3 separate regions of the Homo sapiens genome follow, and regions 1 and 2 are each linked to region 3. Evidence: fine-mapped expression QTL. A gene starts in region 3. Each other region holds a variant in brackets. All regions are shown on one strand. Distances are between the middles of the regions. Region 1 overlaps LINC02137 (long intergenic non-protein coding RNA 2137). Region 2 holds the start of SPMIP8 (sperm microtubule inner protein 8). Region 3 holds the start of LINC02137 (long intergenic non-protein coding RNA 2137).

Region 1 (10,767 bases), 43 kb before region 3:
CTTGCAAAAAGACCAGTGTCCCACTTTCACATATCACACTAAAAAATAAAAAAATCATCCGGCTACCGAAGGCACCAGGAATCTGCCCTCTGAGAATTGTAATGAGCTCGTGTGCAGGTGTGACGGTGTCTTGGGCTCCCTCACAAGTATCATCTTGGCTCCCCACAATATATATATTTTTGAGACTCGCTCTGTTGCCCAGGCTGGAGGGCAGTGGTGCAATCTCAGCTCACTGCAACCTCCTAATCTCAGGTTCAAGCAATTCTCCTGCCTCAGCCTCCCCAGTAGCTGGGACTACAGGCACACACCACCAAGCCCGGTTCATTTTTGTATTTTTGGTAGAGACGGGGTTTCGCCATGTTGACCAGGCTGGTCTAGAACTCCTGACCTCAGGTGATCCACCCATCTGGGCCTCCCAAAGTACTGGGATTACAGGCGTGAGACAACTGCTCTGGCCTAACACTGTTAATGAGGGCTATTATTCCCATTTTACTGATAAGACTGAGGCCGAAAGAAGGTAACAATTTGCCCAGGAGCTGAGAAGCACAGGGGAGACCCCGAAATTCACATCCTCTGATTCCAAAACCCCCGCCTTCCTTGTCCCTGTTGCAGCAAGACCCCGCTGAGGCGCCTGGAAATGGCCTCGACAAGCATTCATGATTTACAAAGCCTCCAGAAGGACCCCAACAGCCTCCTCTTCTCTCCAGAACAAAAAGACATGCTGGATCTGGGCATGACAACCCATGGGTCTCCTTCTAGTCCCACATGTGAGGGGGCACCTGGCCTTCCCCATGATGTCAGAGCTGTGGGTGTCTGGCTGGAAGGGCCCCACCCCCTGAGGCCATGCCTGACTCACAGGAACCTGAGACCTAAGTAGGGTCCCCCAGAGACACAGCTCAGAGAGGCCTGGACTGTTGTGAGAACCCAACGAAGGAACTGGAACACCCTGCGGGGAGGGAATCTGGAAACTGGAGCACAGTGGGAGGAGAAGGAGCCCCCAGCACAGTGATGGAGTGCACTCGGGAGGCGGCCTGAGGACGCCAGCTCCACGACTGTCATCAACTATCCGCCCGCCAGAAGCTGCACTCGACGTCTTGCACACGCTCACACACCTAATCTCCAAAGATCCCAGCCAGGTAGGCACCACGACGATCCCATTTTACAGATGAGGAAAATGAAGTGTGGAACGGCTATTAGACTGTCCCAAAGCCAGGCAGTTAGAATGCCATATGGGACAACTCCCGGCTCAGGGCTGGGTTCTGAATCCAGTGCTGCCTCTTCTGAGAAATAGGAACATGAGGAAGTCACTGACTTCACTGGCAAGACAGGCAAGATAATAAAATAGGAGAATGTGAAAAGTATACAGAACTAAATCAATTTTTTTTTTTTGAGACAGAGTCTTGCTCTGTTGCGTAGGCTGGACTGCAGTGGTGCAATCTTGGCCCACTGCAACCTCCCTCTCCCAGGTCCAAGTGATTCTCCTGCCTTAGCCTCCCAAGTAGCTGGGACTACAGGCGTGCGCCACCACACCCAGCTGATTTTGTATTTTTAGTAGAGATGGGGGTTTCACCACGTTGGCCAGGCTGGTCTTGAACTCCTGACCTCAGTGATCTGCCTGCCTTGGCCTCCCAAAGTGCTGGAATTACAGGTGTGAGCCACTGTGCCCAGCCTTCAATATGAGTTTTTAAAATTCAGTAAAAATTTCCTAAGGCTGATGTCGGGGCAGGGAGTTAGAGGCCTCTACAGAATTATCCTAGAGACGTAGATGCCGAGTGGGCTGTGTGAGCCTAGCCTCAGTCAGCAACCCTTGAGCATTTGCTGTGTGCCACCACAATAAAGTGGCCACCTCCCGGACTGTGACCTGCTTGTTATCCAATGGGGGAGATGGGTCAAATCTCACAGACGCAGGAAAGCAGGGATAAAGGAGGGTGGGGGCAGATCCAAATGCTCTAGGTGCCAACCAGCCAGGACAGGTGGGGCCCAAGAGGTGCCCACCAGGGTCTAGGTCCCAACCACGTGTGTCGCCTACACTATCTCAGCAAGCCTTACACCATCTCTTAGAGACAGGGGCCAACAGTTCCATCTTTAAGATGAGAGGGCTGAAGTCTGAGAGGTTAAGCAACCTGTCTGAAGTCACACAGCTGGCTACTGATGGGGTTGGAGTTAGAATCCCGATCTGTGAGAAAAGGAAGAGGACAGAGAGGGAAGTCTGTGAAGACCACAAAATAGCAACAGAGGGGATGGGTTGTCTCCCAGGGCCAGGTTGCAGGTACAATGGGGGCGGAGCCTGTGACTGATGACAGTAACTGAGAGGGGCCTCATCCACCCTGGCCAGGGACTTAGAAAGCCCGCCAGAATCTGGTGACCCCATCTGGTGGGGGAAGAGGGGTCCTGACTCCTCTATCCAGGAGATGAGAGAACAGTGCATGGGGTCTCCAAAGCCTAGACCCCTGCTTGAGCCCCCCACACATGTCTCCTGTGAGCATTTCTCATCCAGGCCCTTTGGGGGCAGGAAGAGTTGGGGAAGAGAGGAACCAGGAGATCTGTTCACCATGCAGAGCTCTAAAAACCCATGGTGGGGGCTGGGTGCGGTGGCTCACGCCTGTAATCCCAGCACTTTAGGAGGCAGGGGCAGGTGGATCACTTGAGGTCAGAAGTTCGAGACCAGCCTGGCCAACATGGCGAAACCCATCTCTACTAAGAATACAAAAATTAGGCATGCATGGTGGCGCGTGCCTGTAATCCCAGCTACTTGAGAAGCTGAGGCACGAGAATCCCTTGATCCTGGGAGACGGACGCTGCAGGGAGCCGAGACTGTGCCACTGCACTCCAGCCTGGGCGACAGAGTGGGACTCCATCTCAAAACAAAACAAACAAACAAAACACCCATGGAACCGCAAGCCTTCCCTCCAGGGGGTTAACAAGTTCAGTGGCCTGCGCGGTTCCCTTCCAAGTTGGGTGAGCTGGGCCTGCCTCAAGTGAGCTCCACAAAGAAAAAGTTGGCAAGGGATTGGAGGGGGTGCCAGCCCCGTGGCTAACTGGGCTCAGCGCTGGAACTTCTGAGCACCCAGTCAGTTTCCAGTGTCCCAGGAACAGCTTCCACCTTTCCTTCTCTACAAGTCTGTCACGAGCTATTGCTGATTTATTTATTTATTTTTTTGTAAAGATGGGGTCTCGCTATGTTACCCAGGCTGGTCTTGAACTCCTGGCCTTAAGCGATCCTCTGGCCTCAGCCTCACAAAGTGCTGGGATTACAGGCATGAGCCACTGCGCCTGGCCTGCTACTGCCGATTTAATAAAACCTCACCCAACGTACCCCACCCCCACCTTCTAGCCCCCTCCCCCGCAACACACACGCACATTCCAGGCCATTCAGCCTCCATACCTCTCCCCGAACAAGCCTCTCTCACACCCCAGAGCATGGGCCATTCCCTTGATCCTGAACCCATAATGCCACCTCCTTCTTCATTAACAAAAATTGTTTTTCGAGGTCTTCAAAAGCTGCCCCCGACTCGGATTCCACCGTTTCCTGAGCGCACCCACAGACGGCTGCCCCTTCCAGCCTTGTAACAGGGCTCCGGGGCTCTGCTCCCTCATCGGACATTAAGGTCCTGGAAGGCAGTGATCAGCCCCCTCCCCCAGGTGTCGGAGGACACTTACTGGAATCTGTGCTCATCTGACATACACGGATGGAGCACCTATAAGTCCCAGAGCTGGAGGAAACCGGGTTGCTTTCCTTTCCTCCTGTCTGGGTCTCTCCACACCGGGGAGAACACAGAAGTCACTCCTCGAATCCTCCCCCCCGTCCCTGCTCCCTTTCCCACCTCCTCTTCCTGACCGTTCGCTCTTGCTCTCCAGCCACTGCCCCCTGGATGTGAGTTTCCAGCAGGGCAACTGATCACTTCTCCAGAGGAGCCCCAAGGCTGAGGGTCCCCAGTCAGTAGGGTCCAATCTGGCTTCCCACTTCCCAGGCCACTTGGCGTCGCCTCCACTCCCAGCAAGAAACTTCTCCCCCAGAGAAAGACGGCTCAGATTGTCACAGGGCGCAGAAATAAGAGGTCCATGGCGCGGGTCCTGCCAGAAGCCCACGGGTCCTTTCTTAGGGGACAAGCGACACTGATTGGAGGGCAGGAGCCCTGAGCTAGCTTTCAGGGTCCTAATCCGAGCTCCGCTGGTCAGAGACCCCATGGGGCCACCCCCTGACCGGTGCTCCCGCAGCCCGGACGCCAGCGCCAGGGACTCGCCACAACCTCAAGTCCTCTCCCGGGGCTGGGCTCCGCACACAAACAGGTAGCACAAAACTAGGACTTAGTTGGGGTCCGCACCCCTTCCTGCTCAGACCCGAGCCGCCCCAGTCCCCGGCCGCCGCGCCCGGAGTCCGCTCCAACTCGGAAAGTGGCGGCCGGCTGCGGGGCAGGCGGGCGGTACCTGTGAGCAGCTCCAGCCGGTGTCCCAGCACCTTCATCTCGGCGCCCGGCGCGGCCCGGCTCTGGGTGGCGGCGTCGGGGCAGCGCGCTCGGCCGAGCCGGGGAGAGGAGCGCGGGAGACCCGGAGCGGAGCGGCAGGAGAGCGCGGAGCGAAGCGGCAGGAGCAGCTCACAGCCAGGAGCGCTCTCCCGCCCCCAACGCCGCGCTCCCCCCTCCAAAACGGTTTAAAAAAATCCACCAATTGCATGGCCGCGCACCCCCAAAAAGGCACCCGCCGCCACCTGGTCCCGGTGAACTCCAGGAGGCGGAGGAAGGGCGCGGGGTGGGTGCGGTGACACCGTGGGAGGTGGTCCCCCGTGCCCGCCGCCCGAACAAAGAGACCCCGCCGCCTCCGGGCGTCGCGGTGGGGGGTCGCGGACGGCGGCTGGGGGTCCCCAGCGCGGCCGGGAAGGCGAGGAAGGAGAGCGGGAGCCGCGGGGAGGAGGGGGCGCCGCCCCCGCGGAGGCGAAATGGGGCGGGAGCGAGTCGGTGCGGGACTCGCGGGGCTAGGGTCGTGCGTGGGGCTGGGGTCGTGCTCGGGGCTGGGCTGGGCTGGGCGGGGACGCGCGCAGCAGCCGCGGCGGCGAGAGAAGCTGGCCCTGGGCTCAGGGGCGAGGGCGCCGCCGACTCACCGCGGAGATGCGGACGAGACAGACGCGCAGGCGGGGAGCGGGGCTTCGGCGCCGCCGACGCGCGGGTGCAGGTGCGGGCAGCCAGGAGCCCCTCCGCGTGCCCGCGGCTGCAGGGGCGGAGGCCGGGCTGGGGGCGGTGCGCCGCGGGGGCGTGCCCGCGTGGGTTTGGCGGGTGTGGGCGCTCGGCCCGCGGGGCGGTGCCGGGCCTGGGGCTAGTCCCGGACGGACCGCGGTCCCTCGCGCGTGGCTTCCGCCTTCTGCGCGGCTGGGGTGCCCGGTGGGCGGGCGGGAGGGCGAGCGGGGACCGCGACGCGGAGCCTGGGGGACACCCCGGTCGATCCGCGCCCCCGCCGACTTCTCACCCGCTCCGCCGCGCGGACTGTGCTGGGTGCGCTGCGAGGCCCTGCCCGCCCCTCCAGGCCCCCTGTGGCCGCGCGGCGTCGGGTTCCCGGGGGAGGGGACGGCGCTGCCGTAGTCTTTGTTTAGACTCCCAAGGGGAACCTTAGACCTGCAGAGACATCCCCATCCCAGCGCCCCTGCGCCTGCTGCTTCGCGCTACCCGCCGTCGCCGCCTGGGAACCGAGGGAGAAAAGCCCTTAGGGTCGGGAAGAACCAGGGGCTCAGGGGCCTCTGGGGCGTCGTCCCCCTCCCCCCGTTTTCGGAGCCCGAGGGTGTCCTTGAGGAACTTGTGCAGGAGTGAGGAGGGACATCCCCTAGCAAAGGTGTCCTGGTCCCTCAGGGTCCCACCCTGAAGGTGGGGAGGTCTCTGCTCCCCTCAATTCACCTCCATTATCTGAGCGGGAAAGGGAACATGGGGACCCGTCTCTTCCTCAGGCTCATCCTGCTCGGGGCCCCGAGGCACTCCTCCCTCCTGCCACTCCCCTCACCAGCCCTCCTTTGGTCCCAGATGAAGTCCCACTCCAGGGAGTACGGAAATCTGATGGCCTGAAAAATTTTATTTGGACAAGACAGCTAAAGACAGGGCTCCTGGAGAACCGGGTTCTATTCAGGCTCGGCCGGTGACCTTGGGCGGGGCTCTGCTCCTCCCTGGGTTCCAGTCTTTTCCATGCAGGACTCT[G/A]TTGGACCAGGTCATCTTGGAGGTCCAGGATGGCGGTGGGGTTGGGGGTGCAGAGGGGCCTGCAGGCTTCCGGGCCCTTCCGCAGACCTCTCTCTGGGCTGGTTTGCGGAGACGCCCTGGTTTTCCTTTCCCCCAGCTCCAGGGGGCTGTGGCCGTGAATTAACCGATCCACCAGCTGAGGAAGCTGGTAAGATTTTGGTGGCCCCAGATGGGGCATATGTTCCCGCTTGGGTTACAGCTTTGTCCTTGGGTTACCCCTACAGCTTGGGGTGCAGTGTATAAATCACAGGAGGCAGCAATTTGGGTTCCTTGCTCTGCGGAAATCCCTGCCTCTCAGTTTCCTCCTTTGCAAAGGTGTGGAGGGAGGTCGGTGATGACAGAAGTGAACCTCTATTTCTGACACCTCCACCAGGCTTAGTTCTATATATAGCAGCCAGGAGCCAGTCCTTAGGAGCACAGGCTGGTCCTACAGCTTCCTGGCTGTGGAATGTTTGGCAAGCTGCTTACCCTCTCTGAGACGTCATGTCATACTCTGTGAAATTGGGATGATGCTGACCTCAGGATTCCTGTAAAGATTAAATAACAGAATATAAAGAAAATGCTTAATATAGTGCCAGACGCATGACTTAAGTTTAAGTGTTCAATACATGGTCATTATTATTATTCATGATGAAATTGTTATTATCGCATGAGAGATTCTTTCAGGCTTACCTGAGTCCTACCCTTTTCAGTCATTTCAGACTTTGTCATTGGACAAAATTAATTGTTGATGTTCTAGTGACATAATTCACGGGGCCTAGGCTGTTCTGCAGGCTGCCTAACAGGAGCTTTGACACTATGACACGCCTGTCTGAGACATGGTGTCTGCAGTGGCCTTGAACTCATGCAGACTATCCATGTAGCTCAGATAGTTCATGAACTCCTGTGAGCATTCCAGTGAGTCAGGTTGTGGATTTGAACTCCTAAAAGTGGAGACAGTAGGGCCGGGCGCGGTGGCTCATGCCTGTAATCCCAGCACATTTGGGGGCCGAGGTGGGTGGATCACCTGAGGTCAGGAGTTCAAGACCAGCCTGGCCAACATGGTGAAACCCCATCTCTACTAAAAATACAAAAATTAACTGGGCGTGGTGCACATACCTGTAATCCTAGCTACTCAGGAGGCTGAGGCAGGAGAATCACTTGAACCCAGGAGGCGGACGTTGCAGTGAGCCGAGATCGCGCTGCTGCACTCCAGCCTGGGTGATAGAGTCTAAAAAATACATAAATAAATAAATAAAAGTGGAGACAATAGATGAAGAAGAAACGTAATCGTGAGAGTCCCCAGGGCTATTGCATCAAACAAAGGTGCATAAGGAAGAGGTAGGTTGAGGAGGCCCTGACCCTTCTGGAAACATCAGTCATGACAGGCAGCGGAGTCACTACTGAGTCAGCAGAAGGGCAAGCTCTGGGTCCCCTGTGCCGCTGGGCTCTCTTCATCTTCAGCACTCTGCGGAGGAGGGGTGATGTTTGGGAGCAGGTTGGATTAACAGTGAAAAGCAGAACAGTGCAGAGAGCCAAGCTGTTGCCTGGGACAGGAGGCCTCTAAGAAAGTGTCCCCCCAGCCTTGCTCCTAATTACTTGAAACATGCTTCCTAAGTCACTGCCTTGTAAAATGGGCAGAAGATCACTGGCCTGCACCCAGGTCGGAGATGAGATAACCTTTCTAAAGATCTCAAATGAGCCTTCACTTCTCATCTGTAAACTCAGGCTGATATATCTAGTCAGGGTGTTTAATTGCAAGAAATAGAGACCTACTCTGGCTAATTGAAGCAGAAAAAGGCTTTGTTAAAAGGAGGATAGGCCGGGCATGGTGGCTCACCCTGTAATCCCAACACTTTGGGGGGCTGAGGCGGGCAGATCACTTGAGGTCAGGAGTTCAAGACCAGCCTGGCCGACATGGTGAAACCTCACCAAAAATACAAAAATTAGCCAGGTGTGGTGGCACACGCCTATAATCCCAGCTGCTTGGGAGGTTGAGGCAGGAGAATTGATTGAACCCAGGAGGCAGAGGTTGCAGTGAGCCGAGATCCTGCCACTGCACTTCAGCCTGGGCAAAAGAGTGAGATTCCGTCTCAAAAAAGAAAAAGAAAAAAAAAAAAAAGGAGGGTGGGCATCTCTTGGAATATCAGGTGCCAGGCCTGACACTGCTATGTTGGCCTGATGTTAAAACCACTACTGCCATCCCCCAGCACAGAAGCTGCAGCCAGTGCCACCCCTGGACGTGGTCACTGGGCACTGCCATCAGGAACTCAGCTGCTGCTTCCCCAGTCCTCACCGCAGTGGATTCTGTGTGGTCTTGGCTTCCTCGTGCCACTAGTTTCTAATTAACAACCAAGAACAGAACACGCCCAGGTGCAGTGGCTCACACCTGTAATCCCAGCCCTTTGGGAGGCTGAGGCAGGAAGATTGCTTGAGCCCAGGAGTTCAAGACCAGCCTGGGCAACATGGCAAAACCCTGTCTCTACAAAAAATGCAAAAAGTAACCAGTCATGGTGATACACGCCTGTGGTCCTAGCTACTCAGGAGGTTGAGGCAGGAGACTCGCATGAACCTGGGAGACGGAGGTTACAGTGAGATGAGATTGCACCACTGCACTTCAACCTGGGTGACAGAACAGACTCTGTCTCGGTAAATAATAAATAAATAAATAAGTAAATAAATAAATAAATAAATAAATAGAATGGGATGTCTGATTGGAGGAGCATAGGTCATATACTTTGGCAAAGCTGTAAGCAAAGCTGGGGAAAGATGTTTTCAGTTTCTCTAGTGGGAGGTGGGCTCTGCCTTGTAGAAAGGGTGTGTCAGCTGCTGGGGGCCAAGAGTGACCAGTGACCACTTCAGATAACAATGGTCTTGTGAAACTGTTGTAAGATGATGCACATGGACATTTGACTTGGAGCCTGGCGTGGAGGGAACATAGGGATCTCAACGATCCCTCGTTGTTGAGATTCATACCACACTGTAAATGTAAACCAGTGGTACTCCTCCATTCTTTAAATTTTTGATTTTTCAGCAGGTAAAAGACAAAAGGACCTTGAAAACAGTATGGCTTGCTGCCCTTCCACAGACAGAGGCAGCTCCAGTCCTGCTGCCAGGAGGACAGGTGACTGGGTTTTTCCATTGTGGTGATGAATTGGGCTGAGTCACCATCCCCTCGTGACCATGACTGGGAGCAAGTAGAAAGAACCAGCTGATGGAGTCAGAGGTGCAGATGATGAACCTGGGGCCAATGAATCTTCTTCCCTTAGCAGGGGTGGGGGAGATAGGAACTGTCTCCCCCTCCCCAGTAACACTCCCTACTTCCGAATCTTGAGCCACACTCAGGGAGAGAAGAGAGGCTCCTTTCTTTCCTTTCATAGTATTGATTGAGCGTCTTTTTGGTGTTGTGGGGTTCAATGGAGAACAGAGCTGATCAGGACATTGACCTTGACTTTAAGGTTCATGCACTGATGGAAACCAGCTCAGAGTCCCATAATCTCAGTACCAGGCCGACTCTACTAAGATGAGTAATTGATGTTACCATAGAGTGCAGTGGAGGCCTAGGGGACTCAGCAAGGGCTTCCTGGAGGAAGAGGCATCTGAGCCCCCAAGAGGTGGAAGATCAGCAGATGGAGATGGGAGGCGGACGAAAGGGAGAGAACATCCATCCATCCATCCATCCATCCTACACTGGATCAGCCAGGCCCTGTGCTGAGCTCAGGGAGGCACAGAGCTAAGCACATTGCAGCCCTGCCCCTCAATGGGAGCTCCTGAATTGAGGTGGAGAGGCCTGGGTATGCATGAGTAGATGGTGAGGAAGCTGGAACGAGGAAGCGGGTGGGGAAGAGTTCCCGGCCTCAGCCTGGCTCTGGAATTTCACCAGTTACCAGATTATCTGCTCCCTGCTCCTGGGCCACCGTGGACGACTCACTGGTTTTATTGCAATCCCCTTTCTCCCATGATATGTAAGGGCCCTTTGCCCTGCAGGGCCAGCCCCTTGCTATCCTGGTAACTCTGGACACCCCACTGTCTCCTCGGTTCCTGAGGACAGTAGAGCCCCCTCCAGTGCCATTTGCAAATGTCCCTCCACTTCCCCTGGAAACTTTAGCAGGCTCATGGAAACCCAGTTGGTGCTGAGTCAAGGCAAGAGGTGGAACTGATAATATTGTTTACAAATTATAATAGTTATGTATATTCAATGCATAAACCTTATGCAGGGGGAAAATAAAAATCACTAATAATTCCACTGCCTAACAATAGGCAGTGTTAACATTTTGGGGGTATGATCTTCAATGCTTTATATATATACATACGCACATACACACACACACACACACACACCACACATATACACACACACACACAAACACACACATATATACAGTGGCCCTCTGTGTCCATGGGTTCCACATCCATGGATTCAACCAACCACAAATCAAAAATATTAAAAAATAAAATAATGTAACTATAAAGTAATGCAAATAAAAAACAATACAGCATAACAACTATTTACACAGCATTTACATTGTATTAGTTTTTTTGTTTTTTTTTTTTTTTAGATGGAGTTTTTCTC
Region 2 (8,890 bases), 440 kb after region 3:
AGCACTTCAGGAGGCCGAGGCGGGTGGATCACTTAAGGTCAGGAGTTCCAGACCAGACTGGCCAACATGGTGAAAGACCATCTCTACTAAAAATGCAAAAATTAGCCAGGCATGGTGGCGAGCACCTGTAATCCCGGGTACTCGGGAGGCTAAGGCAGAAGGATCACTTGAGTCCAGGAGGTCGAAGCTTCAGTGATCATGCCACTGCACTTCCACCTGGGTGACAGAGCAAGATCGTGTCTCAAAAAAAGAAAAAAAAGGCTGGGCACGGTAGCTCACACTTGTAATCCCAGCACTTTGGGAGGCCAAAGCGGGTGGATCACTTGAGCTCAGGAGTTCGAGACCAGCCTGGGCAACAAGGTGAAACCCTATCTCTACCAAAAATACGAAAAATTAGTTGAGTGTGGTGGCACGCGACTGTAGTCCCAGCTACTAGGGAGGCTAAGGCACGAGGATCACTGGAATCCAGGAGGTGGAGGTTGCAGTGAGCTGAGATTGCGCCACTGCACTCCAGCATGGGCAACAGAGCGAGACTCTCTTAAAAAATTTTTTTTTAATTTGACAACTTAAAAAAAATCTAAGATAAAATAGTATTCACATCTTACCTTTGCAACAGAATAAAACTCCAAAGATTCCAATGTAAAAAGTGAACATGGGCAAATTCTTTTATAATCTTGGGATGGGAAAGGCCTTAATAATTTTAATTAAAAATCCAGAAGCTTTAAAGAAAAGATTGATAAGTTAAATACATAAAAATAAACTTCTACATGGCAAAAACAAATGTCAAAAAACAAATGGAAAAAATATTTCCACTTATTTTACAGATATTAATATTAATTAATATTCCTTAATATTGAAAGAGTGCCTAGAAATCAAGCAAAACAAAAAATGCCAGGTATGGTGGCTCGAGCCTGTAGTCTCAGCTACTCAGGAAGCTGAGGCAGGAGGATTGCTTGAGCCCAGGAGTTTAAGGCTGCAAGTGAGCTGTGATCATGCCACTGCCCTCCAGCCTGGGTGGCATAGCGAGACCTTGTTTTTAATAAATAAATTAACAAGTTGAGGAATTTCTCTATACAAGAACTCCAAGGTGCAGATGGGTATATACAATATGCTACCATTTGCTTTAAAAAAAATTTTTTTTTGAGACAGAGTCTCGCTCTGTCGCCCAGGCTGGAGTACAGTGGCGCGGTCTCGGCTCACTGCAACCTCCGCCACCCAGGTTCAAGCGATTCTCACGCCTCAGCCTCCCGAGTAGCTGGGATTACAGGTGCGTGCTACCATGCCTGGCTAATTTTTGTATTTTTAGTAGAGATGGGGTTTCACCATGTTGGCCAGGCTGGTCTTGAACTCCTGACCTCAAGTGATCTGTCCACCTCAGCCTCCCAAAGTGCTGGGATTACAGGCGTGAGCCACTGCGCCCGGCCTACTGTTTGCTTTAAAATGGTAGACTAAACATAGACTGTTGGAAACAGAGAATATATATTCAGGTCATCACCTTAACCAAATAATCAAACTTAGCATCACAAATAATGTGATAATGAAATTCTGTGCCTCCTGCTGCAGCATTATGGCAAACACGGCATCTGTCGCCTGTGAAAGATTCTGGCCAGCAGTGTTTAACCTGGTGATTCAGATCTCTACACCTAGCTGCTGGTTTACAGAAAATAGATTAACAAGATAAGAAACACCATGAAGAAACAGTGGCTCAAATTCACCATATGGGACTGTCTACAACACAACTGTTAGAGACTTTAAAAAGTCAGTATGATGGTGGGCAATGGAAACTGGGTGGACTGTTTTAGACTAAGACAAAAGACATAACAAGTAACTGAAATACGTAATCCTAGATTGAATTCTTGTTCCAAAAAATCATTTTAAAGCCAGAAAAGACATCTTTGAGGGCAATTGGGGAGATTTTAATATGGTCTGGATATTAGATGTTGTAGAAGTATTGTTAGCTTTCCTAGGTGTGATAATGGTATTGTGTCATGTAGAAGGATGTTTTTGTCATTGGGAGCTGCTTGCTAAAGGGTGTCCAAGAATGTAAGAGAGAGGGCGAGAGAAGCAAAAATATGGCAAAAATCAACTGAAGCAGGAGGAAGGTGGTGGGTACTCATAGTAGTATTCTTTCAACTTTTCTCCATTTGAAAATGTTTATCATGTAAACTAAAAATAAAATCCTGAGGTCTCCGCAATGTATTGACTGAGCGGACCCCCCTCTTGGCTAAGGGGATCCCCCAAAACCTTGAAAAACTGAGTTCCCAGCCATAATGGGACAGGAGGTCAGACATGCTTCATTCCACCCCTGCCTTTTTGCGGTTTAGACACAATAAATGACCAGCATTAATGTTAAACTAGCAATCACAAGGCCAGGTGCGGTGGCTACGCCTGTAATCCCAGTGGTTTTGGAGGCCAATCACTTGAGGTCAGGATTTTGAGACCAGCCTGGCCAACATGGTGAAACCCCATGTCTACTAAAAATACAAAAATCAGCTGGGCGTAGTGGCACACGCCTGTAGTCCCAGCTAGCTACTCAGGAGGCTGAGGCAGGAGAATCACTTGAACCGGGGAGGCGGAAGTTGCAGTGAGCCGAGATAGCGCCACTGCACTCCAGCCTGGGTGACAGAGTGAGACTCTGTCTCAAAAAAAAAAAAAAAAAAAAAAAAAAAAGAGAAAGAGAGAGAGAGAGATTACAAGACTAAGAGAACAGACTCTTTGTGGCAATAAGATACCAAATTATAATAATAATAATAATAATTATTATTATAATAATAATAATTATTATTATTATTGAGACGGAGTGTCACTCTGTTGCCCAGGCTGGAGTGCAATGGCGCGATCTCGGCTCACTGCAACCTCCGCCTCCTGGGTTCAAGCAATTCTCCTGTCTCAGTCTCCCAGTAGCTGGGATTACAAGCACACACTACCACACCTGGCTAATTTTTGTATTTTTAGTAGAGACAGGGTTTTACCATATTGGTCAGGCTGGTTTTGAACTCCTGACCTCAGGCGATCCACTTGCCTTGGCCCCCCAAAGTGCTAGAATTACAGGCGTGAACCGCCACGCCCGGCCAAGATACCAGATTATTAACAGGACCTAAGGCCATGCCAGGCAAGGGTTAAGTCACGCACCCCTACACTTAAAGAATAAACTACAGGCTGGTCGTGGTAGCTCACGCCTGTAATTCCAACACTTCGGGAGGCTGAAGCTGGAGGATCACTTGAGCCCAGAAGTTGGAGACCAGCCCTGGCAACATAGTGTAACCCTGTCTCCACACAAAACAAACAAACAACAACAACAGCAACAAAAATAGCCTGGCATAGTGGTGTGTGCCTGTAGTCCCAGCTACTCAGGAGGCTGAAGTGGCAGGATCACCTGAACCTGGGAGGTCGAGGCTGTAAAGAGCCATGTTTTTGACATTGCACTCTAGCCTGGGTGATGGAGAGAAACTCTGTCTAAAAAAACAAAACAAAACAAAACGAAAAGCAAAACACAAAAATAAATAAGCTATGTTTTAATTGCCATGAGGTTTTTCTTTTTCTCTAGCCCTGGACTTGAGATAAGCAATATTAAAACAATTACAACTCATACAGCTCACAGATGCTGATGAACTGACCCCCTGATCCACCAGCCACAGCTATGCCTTTGATTGCATAAGAGGCTGATTTCAGTAACTTTCTCCAGGTAAGAAGACCACCAACCATGGACTGGTCCTGCCCAGCATACAGAGGCTGCTCACTTGCTGGGCTTCGCGTCCTGAAAAGAACTTTTGACGTATAGGGACTAATTGTAATACATTTAAAGGTTAAGTCTCCACCTCAAAGCGAACATGGGTTGTATGTTACATGCATGTTTGTTCAATATGCCCATGTCAGTACTATCTTCATGAATATTCATAGCTCCTCCTATAAACTATTGAATATGTATGTTTAGCCAACCCTTTGAACATAAAGCTCTTACCCAACCCCTCCTCCTTTGACATGCCTATCTTTGGGCTTAAGCTGGAGGCACACTTTCCAGCCTGTGGGATGGCCACCTGGCAGCTATAACCCCTTGTAAGAAATAAAGTCTCCTTTTCTAAACTTATACATTTATTTTTATTTTTTGAAGATGGAGTCTCGCTCTGTCACCCAGGCTGGAGTGCAGTGGCTCCATCTCGGCTCATCGCAACCTCCGCCTCCCGGGTTCAGGTGATTCTCCTGCCTCAGCCTGGGAGCTGGGATTACAGGCACCCGCCACCCCGCCCGGCTAATTTTTGTATTTTTAGTGAAGATGGGGTTTCACCATGTTGGCCAGGCTGGTCTCGAACTTCTGACCTCACGTGATCTGCCTGCCTTGGCCTCCCAAAGTGCTGAGATTGTGGGTGTGAGCCACCGTACCCTGCCTAAATTTACAAATTTCTGGGTTTTCAGTTAACAGTAATAAAAAGTTGGGGAGCAAAATAACATGTGTTTATATTCCCATTAGTAAACCAGGGAGAGACATCAGAAACTAAGAATGTGGTGGGGGGGTGGTTACCTGTATGCGGGGGCAGTGGGAGTGAGCCTTGTTGCTGTGCATATTGTTATAGCATTTTGAGCTTTGAAGTTCTGACTATTACTTTTACTTAAAGCATATGCTTACAATAAAATACATATCTACATCAGAGCTTTCCTTAAAAATCTAGATTCCTGGCTTCTCTCAGAAGCGGGAAATTGGAAGAACTGGTG[A/G]CCTGGCTGGCCCCTCCAACATAGCACAGTCTGTGGGGAACCCCGTGGCTGCCGTTTAAATAGGGCAGGTGTGGGTGCCCCTTTTCCCTGTGGAGTGTTCCTTCCCCACGGCCTCCCCACCCACTTCCCTCACTTGTGTTTCCCATTAGGGCCCATGTGGCAACTCTGGTAATCTCCGTGCGGTCTCTGACACCCTCAGCCCACCTGTCACCCAAGCTGGAGCCTAGGTATGGGCCTGCACTCCCCCTGTTTGGCCTCCTACCCTGCCCCGCCTGCACCTACTCCTGTTGACTTTATCTGCTAAATACCTTCTAAATCCCTCCACACGCAAGCTCCTCAGTCCATGCGGGGTTATTCACTAGGCCCGTGGGGCTCTTTTGCCCTGAAGGCCCACACGTCTTCCTCTCCTGCATGGGGGCTGTGAGGAGAGGTCTTTCTCTCTCTTTTCCACATACAGAGATGCTTGGGCAGAAGTTACTACTGTTATGACTCCTACCACTGCACCTGTCAACCTCTGCCCAGTTCTCTCTCCATTAATTACAACAGGCTAGGCACAGTGGCTCATGCCTGTAATCTCAGCACTTTGGGAGGCCAAGGCAGGAGGATCGTTTGAACCCAGGAGTTGAGACCAGGCTAGGCAACATAGGGAGACCCTGTCTCTACAAATAATTTTTTAAAATCAGCAGGGCAGGGTGGCACGTATCTGTGGTCCCAGCTATTCGGGAGGCTGAGATGGGAGGATCATTTGAGCCTGGGAGGTCGAGGTTGCAGTGAGCTGTGATCATGCTACTGCACTCCAGCCTGGGCGACAGAGTAAGACACTGTCTTCAAAAAACAAAACAACAATAACAACAATGGCATCAGCAATACTTTTTGAGCACATATTATGTGCCAGGCACTACTCTAAGTGCTTTTTTTTTTGAGACGGAGACTCACTCTTGTTGCCCAGGCTGGAGTGCAGTGATGTGATCTCGGCTCACTGCAACCTCCGCCTCCCAGGTTTAAGCAATTCTCATGCCTCAGCCTCCCAAGTAGCTGGGATTACAGGTGCCTGCCACCACGCCTGGTTAAGTTTTGTATTTTTAGTAGAGATGGGGTTTCACCATGTTGACCAGGCTGGTCTCAAACTCCTGACCTCAGGTTATCAGCCTGCCTTGGCCTCCCAAAGTGCTGGGACTGCGCCCAGCCTCTAAGTGTTTTTTGTGCCTTATCTCCTTCTAACCCCACAACAACACTTTGAGGTAGGCCTTGTCAATTATCCTCATTGTACTGAGCAGTAAACAGAGGCTCAGACCTGGCCAAAGTGTCCTGGGCAGGGAGCAGCAGAGCTGGGACTGGCCTCTTTCATCCTTGCATCTGTCTCCCTCTTTCCTGAAACCATCTGCCCCTTCCCCAAAGGGGATCCTACACTGGTGTCCTAACCTTTGCGGCAGTAGGTGGTGGACTGGCAGTGCTCATCAGGAAGGCAGGCCTTGACGGTGTCCCTGTCCATGTGGCGCAGGGTGGGCAGGGCTGGGTGGTAGAGCTGCTGCTTCACGCCCGCCAGCTGGTTGCGCTGCCGCTCCATGGGAAGCAGGATGGCCGGGGAGGCATACACATGTGTGGAGCCATCGTCCCAGGGCACCAGGTCAATGATGCGGGCCATAGCTGGGGGGCAGAGGGTTCTAAGGGGCTCACCCTGGGCTCATGCTGGCCAGACACCCTTCTCTGCATGAAAACAACCTTGGCCAGTGCCGATGTCTACTTGCCAAACATTTATTTAGCACCTACTGTGTGCCAGGCCATTTTTCTGGAGCTCAGCATGAGGTGGCAGGAACATTCAGATAACAGAAGATAACAGAGACAACCCTCCCACTCCCCTTCCAACACACACATACACACACACACACACACACACACACTCACATTGTGCCATGGCTGTGAGGGAGGTCAGTACAGAGTGTGTGTTTCTGGGGAGGCTGGGGTTAGGACATTCAAGGAATGGTCTAAAAGAGGTGGTATTTGAGTCTATTCGTTTTTTTTTCTTTCTTTCTTTTCTTTTTTTTTTTTTTTTTGAGACAGTCTCACTCTTCTGCTCAGACTGAAGTACAGTGGCGCCATCTTGGCTCAATGCAACCTCTGTCTCCTGGGTTCAAGTGATTCTCCTGCCTCAGCCTCCTGAGGAACTGGGATTATAGGCATCCACCACCACATGTGACTAGTTTTTGTATTTTTAGTAGAGACGGGGTTTCACTGTGTTGGCCAGGCTGGTCTCGAACTCCTGACCTCAAGTGATCCACCCGCCTCAGCCTCTCAAAGTGCTGGGATTACAGGTGTGAGCCACCTTGCCTGGCGAGTCTATTCTTAAATAATAAGCAGGAAAGTGCAGCAGCAAGCGGGTTCAGAATGTAGCTTAGTATGCCGTATACCTCTGGGTGAATAATTATGGACTTGCCCTAGCTATTTACCCAAAATTCTACAGATTGACTCAGAAAGATTTTCAGGAAGGGGAGCAACATGATATATTTAAACTAGAAAAGCATTACTGGATACCCAGTGCCTCCCTTTAAAAAGCAGATAGTCCCAGGAGCCTTTCAGTCATTTACACTTTAGTGAGAATTTGTTGAGACAGCTTGCTTTCTTCCTGACCCTGAGTTAGAGGTGAGAGGTGGAGGTGGAAGCTAGGGTGGCAGGAGGAGAGAGGACCTTAGATCATGGAGGAGCAGGGAGGGGGCATGGTGACAAGGCATGGGGAAGCTGCCTTAGGGGATGTGACTGCCTGGGGAGGGACAGGGAGGGGGATCACGGATATGGGGAAGAGAGCAAGGGCTCCCTGCTTCTGACTCACCAATAGCAGCTACCTTATCTGTAGGGCCCAGGCCCAGGTGCACAGGCTTATAAGGACTTTCAGTTCTTTGACTGCTCAATGGGCAGAAGAGGAAGGGAGGTGGACGAGCCCTTATTATGGACAGCAGCAGAATAAAGGAACATTGTGCACAGACAATGCCCATTGCAGCCTGATTCTGAGGCACCCACTCCTTAGCAACCCTGGCAACTACAGGCTCTAACAAGAGCCTGTGCCAGAATTCCTGTGCTCTGGCCACTCCCTTCCAGCCTTCCTGAAGGCTGTGGTCTCCCAGGCCTTAGCACAGGCCAGGCATCTTGGGAAATGTCAGATGGGGAGCTGGGGTTCCCTGGAGGTAGTCAGGCCAAGGCAGGCCAGAAATGGCTACTGAGCCCACTGCAGGCTGTGTAATCCTGGGCTAATTACCGCCTCTCTCTGGGACTCAAGGCTCTCCTCTGTGTTAGGCAAGGACTCTAGGATCTGCCGTTAGGAGGATCTGGATGCTGAGAGGGATCTCCCCTCCCTGGAACCCTCAGGGAAGAGGGCACTGCACTGTCTGCCAGCCCTTGAGTCTCCAGGAGTGGAGATTAGCTGTGGCCAGTATCCAGGGTAAGCGTGAGGGGATCAGGGAGAGTGGTGGACTCAGCAGGCCAGGGATTAGCAGATGATACTCCACCCTCAGCCCCTGCAGGACTGCAGGCTCCCAGAAAAGCCAGGCTGTGAGTGCCCAAGGCCAGCACCCCAAAGCCCTGGGGCCTGCCCACCATCCTGGTCACAACCATTAGAGACAGACCCCCAAGGTGAGGAAACCCCAGGAGATCCTAACTTATTTGCATATATTGGCATGTGCTTTTGCATATACCTGCCCAGGGGCTGAACCTGATGGGTCTTGGAGCCCCTCCTGTGAAATTCTTGTAGGATTTGTTTCCCCAGTTGCTCCTCCTCCAGTGCTCCATACAGCTTCCAGAACAGCATTCCTAACTGCTACCCCTTACAAAAAACCTTCCCAGAGTTGACTCCACTCACCACCCCACCCCCAATTTATTTCTTGACTCTTTTAAAGTTATAAAATAGAAGAAATACAGAAAGTGAATAAATATCTAATGTAACTAATAATTTACAAAATGAGACCCCGTATAACTACCACCCACCCTGGTCAAGACATGGAGTACTACTTTTAAAACAGTTTATCAGTTTCTTAAAAAATGAAACAGAAATGTACCATATGATTGGGTCATCTGGAAGATTCTACCCCAGGAGGCTTCCCAAGAGAAATGAAAGTATATTGTGAGGCACGATGGCTCACACCTGTAATCCCAGCACTTTGGGAGGCTGAGGTGAGCAGATCACTTGAGG
Region 3 (10,984 bases):
GCCCTACATTCCCCTGATAGACACTGCCTCGGGTTGCATGCCTGGCAGATGGTTTTTCTGAGAACACCACCCAGTAACAAACAAAACAGGTGTGTGTCTTTTCATTTTACTCTTGGTTCTTAGTGTTTTAGGAAAAAAGTATCTGGATTTGAGTATCTGAAATATTCGCATGTTTTACTGAGAAAACAAGGAACCTCTGATTTTCTTGGGAAACAATGAGAGTCGTCACTTCCTTTTAGTGCTTTTAAGCACAAGTTGAAACAAGGAAAACACAATTTTGATTAGTTCTCATTGTCTTTTTGAATGCCTGCTTCACCCTTCCTAGAGCTACAGTGGTATGAAATTAACACTGCTCCCTCCCAGCACTTTGGGAGGCCAAGACGGGTGGATCATTGGAAGTCAGGAGTTCGAGACCAGCCTGGCCAACGTGGCGAAACCCCGTCTTTACCCAAAATACAAAAATTAGCCATGTCTAGTGGTGTATGCCTTTAAGTCCCAGCTACTTGGGAGGCTGAGGCACCAGAAATGCTTGAACCTGGAAGATGGAGGTTACAGTGAGCCGAGATCGTGCCAGTGCGCTCGAGCCTGGGCAACACAGCAACACTCTGTCTCAAACAAACAAAAAAAGTGTAGCTCGATTCAACCCACCAGGCCCTCCATGACATGTCCCACCCCTTCGCTGCTCTATCCTCTTCTCCTCCCATCCTCCCCCCTCCACTCAGGCAAGTTCCTGCCTCAGGACCTTTGCACATGCTATTCCCTCTGCCTGGAACACTCTCCCCTCAGGCGTCTGCATGTTTCCCTCCCTCCTTCAAGTCTTTGTGCTCCAATGTCACCTTCTCAGGGAAGCCCCCCGACCACCCTCTGTAGAACTGCAGCCCCCACCCTGTCTCAGCCCTCCTAAGCCCAGCCCTGCTTTATTTTCCTCCATAGCACTTGTCACCTCCCAATAGATCACATTTTCAGTTTGACTGTCTACTCCCTTTCTAATGGAAACTCCAGGAGGGCAAGGATTTTTGTGCATTTTCTTTACCACTGTTAACCAGTCCTAGAACCATCATTGAATCTGAGGCTTTAGAGAAGAGTTTTGCATCATGTATCCAAAATCTTATAAACATGGCCAGGCTCAGTGGCTCACGTCTATAATCCCAGAACTTTGGGAGGCCGAGGCGGGTGGATCATTTGAGGTCAGGGATTCGAGACCAGCCTGGCCAACATGGTGAAACCCCGTTTCTACTAAATACAAAAAAAAAAAAAAAATAGTGGGGCATGGTGGCGCATGCCTGTAATCCCAGCTACTCAGGAGGCTGAGGCAGGAGAATCACTTGAACCCAGGAGGCAGAGGTTGCAGTGAGCTGAGATTGCGCCACTGCACTCCAGCCTGGGCAACAGAGTGAGACTCTGTCTCAAACAAACAAACAAAAAAAAAACCAAAACCAAATCTCATAAACATGCTCATGATTCCACCCAGCTATTCTACATCTAGGAATTTATCCTTTGGAAGTAATCACAGATGTGCACAAAGATATGGTTAGAAATGTCACAAGGGCAAAACACTGGAAATAATGAGAGCTGGCATTTAATTACCACTTACTGTGTGTAGACCTTGTTGCAAACATTTTATGTGTATGAACTTATTTAAACTTCACAGCAACCCTAGAACCTGCTGATTATCGTCTGTATTTTACAAGTGAAGAAACAGGCGGAGGGTTTGAAGAGTATGTAGTAAAGCCAGGATTCAAAGTTGTGTTTCTTGTGTCTGAATCAAGAGCCCATACTCTTTTTATTTTCGAGAGAGTTTTGCTCTGTTGCCCAGGCTGGAGTGCAGGGGCGCAATCCCAGCTCACTGCAACTTCTGCCTCCGGGTTCAAGCAATTTTCCTGCCTCAGCCTCCTGAGTAGCTGGGATTACAGGTGCCTGCCACCACGCCCAGCTAATTTTTGTATTTTTAGTACAGATGAGGTTTCACCATGTTGGCCAGGCTGGTCTCGAACTCCTGGCCTCATGTGATGCACCCGCCTCAGCTTTATCAGATTCTCAAAGACCTCCAGGAACCAGGGTTGTAGAATAATTTTCCTACATAAGCAAAGTTAGGAATTGTCAATGCTGCTTTTAGCATAGTCTTAAAAAAATTTTTTACCTTCCTTCCTTCCACATAAGCTTCCCTTTTCTTGTCCCTAAATGATGTTAAGAATCTGGAATGTCACCATAGATGTATCTTTAGGCCAGGTGCAGTGGCTCATGCCTGTAATCCCAGCTTTTTGGGAGGCTGAGATGGGAGGACTGCTTGAGGCCAGGAGTTCAAGACCAACCTGGTCAACCTAGTGAGAGCCCATCTTTACAAAACAAAACAAAATCCAAGAATCTTTAATGACTTGGAAAGAGCTTTGTTGCATATAGTTAACTGCAAAAGGCAGGTTACTAAAGAGTCTACGTTCTGACCACATTTTCATTAAAAATTTATCTCTACCTATATGCATGGTAAAATGACTCAAATTGACTATGTATGTTAATATCGCCACTTCTAGGTAATGAAATTCTGGGTGTTTTAAAACTTATTTTCTGGTCTTGTTTGTATTCATTACATGTTTACAGGAATGTTACTTTTGTCATTAAATATACTTTTTGTTTTTAGAAAAAGGCAGACTTTGGGCAGAAAATTTGGTAGTCCCTATCAGAATTTTAAGAGATGTGGGTCTTGCTATGTTGCCCAGACTGGTCTCGAACTCTAGCAGTCCTCCATCTCTGCCTCCCAAAGTGCTGGCATTATAGGCATGAGCCACCGCGCCCGGCCCCCTATCAGAATTTTAAATGTACTTACTCTATGCTCCATCAATTCCACCTTTCCAGAAGTCTGCACTACAGAAATCCTTGCACATGCGGCTGCATGTAAGTCCTGTGACGTTCACCGTAACGTTGTGAAAATTTATGAACAGCCCAAATCCTTCAGAGAAGTTGAGTGGTTAAATAGAATATGATCTTTCCCTACTCTGAAAACCTCTGTGGTTGTTAAACAAGAATAAGGTAGATAGATCTCCGAGATATTGTTAGGTAAAAAAGGGAGGGCACAGAACAGAATGTATAATAGGATCCAACCTACATAAAGGACTACATGTGAGCATGAAGGCGTTGAAAGGAACTGGAGGGAAGCCATCTGTTTGTTGATGTTGTTACCTCCCGGAGCTGGGTGTGGGTGTGGGAGGCGATGGTGAAGGGGACTTGTTTTGTTCTGGTTACTTGAATCTTTCAGAAGTCTGTACATGCAGGACCATGTATTATATATGTCATCAATTTAACACAGTAAAAATATGAAAGTTTTAAAATAAAAGCCCCTAAACTCTAAAATGTTTTCCCCTTACTGAACTGCTCAAGGACTCCATTTGCAAACTGATAGTCTTAGGAAACGGCCATGGGTTTTGGTTACTGTCTAGATAGAAACAGGCTCCATCACTGGGCCGGACACAGTGGCTCACATCTGTAATCTCAGCACTTTGGCAGGCCGAGGTAGGAGGATCATTTGAAGCCGGGAGTTTGAGACCAGACTGGGCAACATAGCAAGACACTGTCTCTATTTAAAAAACAAACAGGCCGGGATTGGTGGCTGACACCTGTAATCCCAGCACTTTGGGAGGCCGAGGCGGGCAGATCACTTGAGGTCAGGAGTTTGAGAGCAGCCTGGCCAACATGGTGAAACCCCATCTCTACTAAAAATACAAAAATTAGCCAGGCGTGGTGGTGCATGCCTGTAACCCCAGCTACTCAGGGGTGAGGCAGGAGACTCGCTTGAACCTGGGAAGCAGAGGTTGCAGTGAGCTGAGATTGTGCCACTGCACTCCAGCCTGGGTGACAGAGTAAGAGTCCGTTTCAAAACAACAACAACAACAAGAAAAAACTGTAAAAAAACAAACAGGCTGTGTCTCCAGCAAAGGACAAATGTTATGTAAACAGTGATGCAGCCATAAGGGGCACTTTTTTTTTTTGAGACAGGGTCTTGCTCTGTTGCCCAGGTTGGAGTGCAGTGGCGCCATCACGGCTCACTGCAGCCTCGACTGCCCAGGCTCAAGCAATTCTCCTACCTCAGCCTTTCTGAATAGTTGGGACCACAGGTGCTGCCACCACACCTGGCTAATTTTTAAATTATTTGTAGAGATGTGGTCTTACTATGTTGCCCAGGCTGGTCTCAAACTCCTGGCCTCAAGTGATCCTCCCACCTCAGCCTCCCAAAGTGCTGGGATTACTGGCATGAGCTGCTGTGCCTGGCCTGGGGCACACTCTTATGTCCTAAGCAAGAACACTAGTTGTAAATATCTTGGAGCGATGTGGAAAGTAAGGGACAAAAGTCAAGTGGGAAATTATGCAAGTGCTGCTGGGCTTACAGCCAGGTGGGATGAAGCATGCCCCGGATAGAGGTAGGAGGGCTGCAGCGCACAGCCAGGTGGGGCTATGGCATCTTAGGCCAAAGCTGTTTCTCCCGGGGCTTTCTCATCCCAGCTCTGAAGCCACAAGCCTGCAAGTCATCTGGAATCCTGTCGTCACCACATCCTCTTGGCTCCCTTCACTTCTTGACATCCCCACAGTTCTCCCTCTGGCCCCAGGCACCTTCATCTCTCACCTCCTTTATCACAGAAGCCTCCCAAGGGGGGTGTCCTGGTTTCCCAAGGCCATCTGTATTAGTCTGTTCTCACACCGCTATAAGGACATACCCGAGACTAGGTAATTTATAAAGGAAAGCAGTTTAATTGACTCACAGTTCAACATGGCTGGGGAGGCCTCAGGAAACTTACGATCATGGCAGAAGGAGAAGCAAATACATCCTTCTTCACATGGCAGCAGGAAAGAGAAGTGCCAAGCAAAAGGGGGAAAGCCCCTTATAAAACTATCAGATCTGTGAGAACTCACTCACTATCACGAGAACAGCACGGTGAAAACCGCCCCCATGATTAAATTACTTCCCACGGGGCCCCTCCCACCACACGTGGGGATTATGGGAACTACAATTCAAGATGAGACTTGGGTGGAGACATCGTCAAACTATATCACCATCCTTCTCCAGCCTGGAATGCCTACACTGTTCCCCATTTAAAGATTTGGCTTCCTGGCTCCCCTGCCTGGATGCTCCAGGCCTCTGTGTGTCCGGTGGCTCCACAGACTACCCAGAGGGCCCTTCTTACAGTGCAGCCACCCCTCTTGCCCCCATTATTTACCACCTCAGCCTGCTTGTCTTCTTCATGGTTCTATCCCTGTCTGAAATCCTCATTGTTACTTGTTTATTCCCGATCTCCCCCACTAGCCAGCATTACTCAAGGGCTTACCACGTGCAGGACACTGCTTTAAGCATTTTACATAGAACCCATTTAGTGCACCTCAAAATCCTACCAGGTGAGTATAATCATGGTTCCCGTTTTACAGATGAGGAAAGTGGGGCACTGAGCTAAGCACCGTACTCCCACGTCACGTGGCTCCAAAATGGCAAAGCTGGGGTTTGAACTTGGGGGCTCCCAGCCCAGAGCCTGGACCCCTAATTACTAAATGATCCTACCTGAAACTACAGATGCACTAAAAACGGACTTTTTTTTGAGACAGCGTCTTGCTCTGTCGCCCAGGCTGGAGTGCAGTGGCGCAATCTCGGCTCACTGCAACCTCTGCCTCCTGGGTTCAAGCCATTCTCATGCCTCAGCCTCCTGAGTAGTTGAGATTACAGGTGTGAGCCACCATGCCCACCTGATTTTTGTATTTTTAGTAGAGATAGGATTATGCCATGTTGGCCAGGCTGGTCTTGAACTCCTGACCTCAGGTGATCCACCCTCCTCCATCTCCCAAAGTGCTGGGATTACAGGCGTGAGCCACCACACCTGGCCAAAAAAACGGACATCTTACTTACTTTTTGAAGATTCAAATTATCTTGAGGGGCAGCCAGTGTCCTGCTCACTCCAGTGCTGGGGAGCAGGACCGCGGGCACCCCTACCCCTACCAAGCTTTTATTGCCTTTAGTGATTTGGGGCATGTGTCTTGACCTGTTTTTCCCTGGACCTAGGATAAACCAGGCTGTTGTTGACAGAGTTCTGGTTTTTGTTGAAGCTCTCAAAATATCGAATCCATAAGCTTGTTTTCCTTATTTAATTCTCACCAGGGTCTCATGGCATGGAGACCCCCCTAGCTAGCACCGATGGCACTGAAACTGTGGCAGTGCCTCTGGTTGCAAAAAATAGGGGATCAACGCCTATTTGGGTTCTATTTTTATTAAAACCCCATTAGCTTGTTTCTATCGGAGCAATTAAAGTGTCGAGGCCTGATGCTCTGCAGGGGCTGTGGAGGAGGCGCTTTCGTGAGAGCAACTGTTCTCAGGCGGAGAACTTTCTTTTCAAAAGGACCCCTGGGGCCTGAAGTCTCAGGCTTATTCTCAGCCCCAGGTGGGTTTTCTTAGTGGATAATTTGGTAACATCCTCTGCAGCTGGGCTTGAGTTAATGAGGTTGAAGATCACCTAATTTTCCCCCTTCCTTTTTTTTTCTTTCTTTGCCTGATTTTGTAACTCACAGTCTAAAGGCTTCCAACCTGTTCCAGCAAATGTTAATTCTGTTCACACCTTGCCAAGTGTGAAATTTCACCCAGCACAGCTGTGCAGACGCATTTCTGTTTCTACCCTGGCACCTTAAAATCAGCTAAACCCACCCAAGCTGGGCTCTGTCCTCATTCCACGCCGGGGTGGGCACAACCTGCTGGCTAGGGTGTGTCCCCATGACACGACTCTGTGCATCTTAACACGTCAGCACACTCTGGAACTTGACAGCTTGCAATTCGGAGGCCATGAATTCAGCACGTGTTAGGCTCCGTGCTCTGTGCTCTGGAGGACTCAGTAGGTCTGGGGTGGGCGCTGGAATCTGTAGTTCTAGCAAATTCACAGGTGGTGCTGATGCAGCTGGCCTGGGGACCACACCTTTGAGAACCACTGTGGTGGGTTTATTTATTTATTTTTTTTGAGACGGAGTCTTGGTCTGTCACCCAGGCTGGAGTGCAGTGGCATGATCTGGGCTCGCTGCAAACTCCACCTCCCGGGTTTAAGTGAGTCTCCTGCCTCAGCCTTCTGAGTAGCTGGGACTACAGGCCACACCACCATGCCTGGCTATTTTTTGTATTTTTAGTGGAGACGGGGTTTGCCATGTTGGCAAGGCTGGTCTCGAATTCCTGACCTCAAGTGATCCATCTTGGCCTCCCAAAGTGCAGGGGGATTACAGGCATGAGTCACTGCAGCCAGTTCCTGTTATGGACTTTTGCTTAAAAGTTACCTTCCCCGGAGGCCCTCCAGTCACACACAGCCTGACTTGGAAGGTGGCCCTGCCAAAGGCTCTCAAGGCAATGTGTATGGCCCGTCCTGGGCTCACACTTGTGATGATCTAATAATGTCCTCCCACTCCCTGACTGTCAGCTCCACCCCTACGGCCAGCTCTATCATATTCATGCCTCAAAAGATCTGCTCTCTGCCTCCTCCCCACTCCCTCATCTCCTGTCACTCTCATCCACACCTCTGCCACCCAGGCCTGCTTTTGTTTCTTAAAGCAGGCCAACCAAGCCACACACTTCTCACCTCCTCTCACTGCTTGGAATGATGACCTCCTCTGGGCTCTTCACCCAGCCAGCTCTGCATCTTTCCTCAGAGAGCCCCTCTTTGGACTCACTAAAGAAGGTCCCTGAAAGCCGGGCAAAGTGGCTCACACCTGTAATCCCAATCTTTGGGAGGCTGAGGTGGGATGATTGCTTGAAGCCAGGAGTTCTAGACCAGCCTGGGCAACATAGTGAGAACTCCGTCTCTATAAAAATTAAGAACAAGAAAAATTAGCCAGATGTGGTGGCACACACTTGTAGTACTAGCTACTTGGGAGGTTGAGGCGTGGAGATCGCTTGAGCCCAGGAGTTCAAAGCTGCAGTGAGCTAGGGTTGTGCCACTGCACTCAAGCCTGAGTGACAGAGCGAGACTCTGTCTTTATTTACACATGCCCTTTAATTCACCTCACAGATCTTATTGTAATCCCGTTTATAGTCCGCCTTGCCCTTTACAGTGTAAACTCCACAGGGCAGTGAGGGATGACCATTCCACTCCTGACTTCAGACCCTCACTGGAGGGGCGAATGAATGAGTGAATAAGTGGGATTAATTTCTGCTGTCAGTGAAATTCCCAGCAGAAGAAGCCAGAAAACAGCCAAGCCTGCCCTGCAGGGGACTGTTTGAACTGTGTAGCCTCTGCTTTCTCGGATTCCCCCTTCCTCCGGACCAACCATGAGCCACCCATCACCTGTTTTGAGCAAGGCAGTTGGGGGTGAGGCAGAGAGAAGGAGGCAAGGGAGTTTTTGCAACAGCCAGAGCTGCAGATTAGACACATGTAATCAATCCGGAGAGCCACACAGTGTTCTGCCAACTGAGATACCCAGATTAAACAGACCAAGGGCCCCTGAGGCAAAATGTCATGCAAAATAACTTTTCAAAAATAGCAGCTTGCAATCTCGAGAATGAGCACGGGTTGTCAATGACATGAGCAGTCTTTTGAAACAGAAGGAGGAGTCCTGTTTTTACTGCAGATAATGGTGATATGACATAGGCATAGGTTGGGCCAATTTTGCCAAAGGAGACACTTAGAAGGGATAGCGAGTCCTATAGAAATGGCGTTGGGAGGACCAGGACTGAAGCGAGAGACGCCTGATAGTGCGGTTGGAAGAGGGGATGGCGAGTCCTATAGAAACGGTGTTGGGAGGACCGGGACTGAAGCGAGAGACGCCTGATAGTGCGGTGGGAAGAGGGGATGGCAAGTCCTATAGAAACGGTGTTGGGAGGACCAGGACTGAAGCGAGAGACACCTGATAGTGCGGTGGGAAGAGGCTGCCCTGGCCTGCTCTGTTGCTCATCGCACAGTGCAGCAGAGCAGAGAAGAGTCGGATCTCAGGATCAGCCTGACCTGGTTTCCAGCCCTGGGCCCAGCACTGGTTGCTGTGTGACCTTCGGCACACACTTAACCTCACTGAGTCTATTTCTTTATCTGTAAAAGGGGGATAACAATAATTCATCTCTTAGGGTTTTTGTGGAAATTAAATGAGATAATACATATAAAATTAGCTGGGCATTGTGGCAGGCACCTGTAATCCCAGCTACTCAGGAGGCTGAGGCAGGAGAATGGCTAGAACCTGGAAGGTGTAGGTTGCAGTGAGCTGAGATGGCGCCACTGCACTCCAGTCTGGGTGACAGAGTGAGACTCTGTCTCCACAAAAAAAAAAAAAAAAAAAAAAAAAAGAACACCTGTAAATCAGTAAAAAGATAAACAATCCAGTAGAACAATGGGTAAAACACGTAAACAGGCATTTCACAAAAGAGGAAGCATAAATGGCCAATGAATATATTTTAAAACCAGGGCCTGTTGTTGGGTGGGGGGAGGGGGGAGGGAAAGCATTAGGAGATATTCCTAATGTAAATGACGAGTTAATGGGTGCAGCACACCAACATGGCACATGTATACATATATAACAAACCTGCACGTTATGCACATGTACCCTAGAACTTAAAATATAATAATAAAAAAAATACAGAAAAAAAAAGAAAAAAAATTTAGCCAGGTGTGGTGTTGCATGCCTGTAATCCCAGTGATTCAGGAGGCTGAGGCAGGAGGATCACTTGAGGCAAGGAGTTCAAGACTAGCCTGGGAAATACAGCAAGATTCTGTCTCTAAATAAGTAAAAGAAGTCAGGTGTGGTGGCATGTACCTATAGTCCCAGCTAGTCGGGAGGCTGAGGTGGGAGGACTGCTTGAGCCTAGGAGTTCAAGGCTGCAATGAGCTATGATCCCACAACTGCACTCCAGCCTGGGTGACACAGGGAGACCTTGTTTCTAAGGAAAAATAAAAAAAGATACTACAAAGAAAATTAAAAGACAAGCTACAGAATGGGAGAATTTTGCAACACAGATAACTGACAAAGGATTAGTATAAAGAACACCTATACTGGCCAGGCGCGGTGGTTCATGCCTGTAACCCCAGCACTTTGGCAGGCCGAGGTGGGTGGATCACCTGAGGTCAGGAGTTTGTGACCAGCCTGGCCAACATAGTGAAATCCTGTCTCTACTAAAAATACAAAAATTAGCTGGGCGTTGTGGCAGGCACCTGTAATCCCAGCTACTCAGGAGGCTGAGGCAGGAGAATCGCTAGAACCCTGAAGGCATAGGTTGCAGTGAGCTGAGATGGCGCCACTGCACTCCAGCCTGGGTGACAGAGCAAGACTCTGTCTCCAAAAAAAAAAAAGATCACCTATAAATCAGTAAAAAGAAGATAAACAATCCAGTAGAACAATGGGCAAAACATGTAAACAGGCATTTCACAAAAGAGGAAGCATAAATGGCCAATGAATATATTTTAAAATGTGCAACTCATTAGTACTCAGAAAAACGCAAATCAGAATAACATTTATATATATAAATTTATATATAAAAATTCTTTTGTGATAGAGTCTCATTCTGTCACCCGGGCTGCAGTGCAGTGGTATGATCAAGGCTCACTGTAGCCCTGAGCTTCTATACTCAAGCAGTCCCTCTGCCTCAGCTTCCCATGTAGCTGGGACCACAGGTGCATCCCACCATGCCTGGCTTTTTTTTTTTTTAAAGTAAAGATGGGGGTCTTGCTATATTTCCCAGACCGGTCTCAAGCAATCCTCCCACTGGCTTCTTAAAGTAGTGAGATTATAGGTGTGAGCCACTGTGCTCGGCCACAGTGAGATATTTTTTAATACCCATTAAATTGGAAAAAAAAAAAAGAATTCTAATAATGGAAACTCTTATACACTGTTGATGGGTGAATAAAGTCATGTGATTTGGCGGAAGCTTGTGAAGTAGAGCACTGGCAGACCCTATAAGCCAGCACTTTCACTTGGGCGTTCATCCCAGAGGAATGCATGCTGTGTAAGAATCCGCACAGTGACAATGTTTGTAATAGAAAAAAAGCTTGGAAATGGA

Evidence for each region.
Region 1: its variant is fine-mapped to the expression of LINC02137 in nucleus accumbens (GTEx, PIP above 0.99). The same link has a PIP of 0.9 or more in caudate.
Region 2: its variant is fine-mapped to the expression of LINC02137 in cerebellum (GTEx, PIP 0.97).

What each region holds. Positions count from the first base shown.
Region 1 is chr16:58,458,129-58,468,895 of GRCh38, reverse strand. It overlaps LINC02137 (long intergenic non-protein coding RNA 2137), which reads right to left. Exons shown (of 4, transcript NR_187253.1): 3 at 7,314-7,425; 4 at 6,035-6,742. It also overlaps a transcript of NDRG4 not described here. Among named protein-coding and RNA genes, the nearest start is that of NDRG4, 37 kb to the left of the region's middle. RefSeq lists an enhancer at 9,237-9,531. The variant G/A (reference allele first, on the strand shown) is at 6,177.
Region 2 is chr16:57,975,282-57,984,171 of GRCh38, reverse strand. It overlaps SPMIP8 (sperm microtubule inner protein 8), which reads right to left and starts at 7,628. Exons shown (of 8, transcript NM_199456.3): 1 at 7,538-7,628; 2 at 6,133-6,357. The coding sequence starts at 6,355. The variant A/G (reference allele first, on the strand shown) is at 4,711.
Region 3 is chr16:58,415,186-58,426,169 of GRCh38, reverse strand. LINC02137 (long intergenic non-protein coding RNA 2137) reads right to left here and starts at 4,844. Exons shown (of 4, transcript NR_187253.1): 1 at 4,749-4,844. RefSeq lists an enhancer at 8,193-8,302.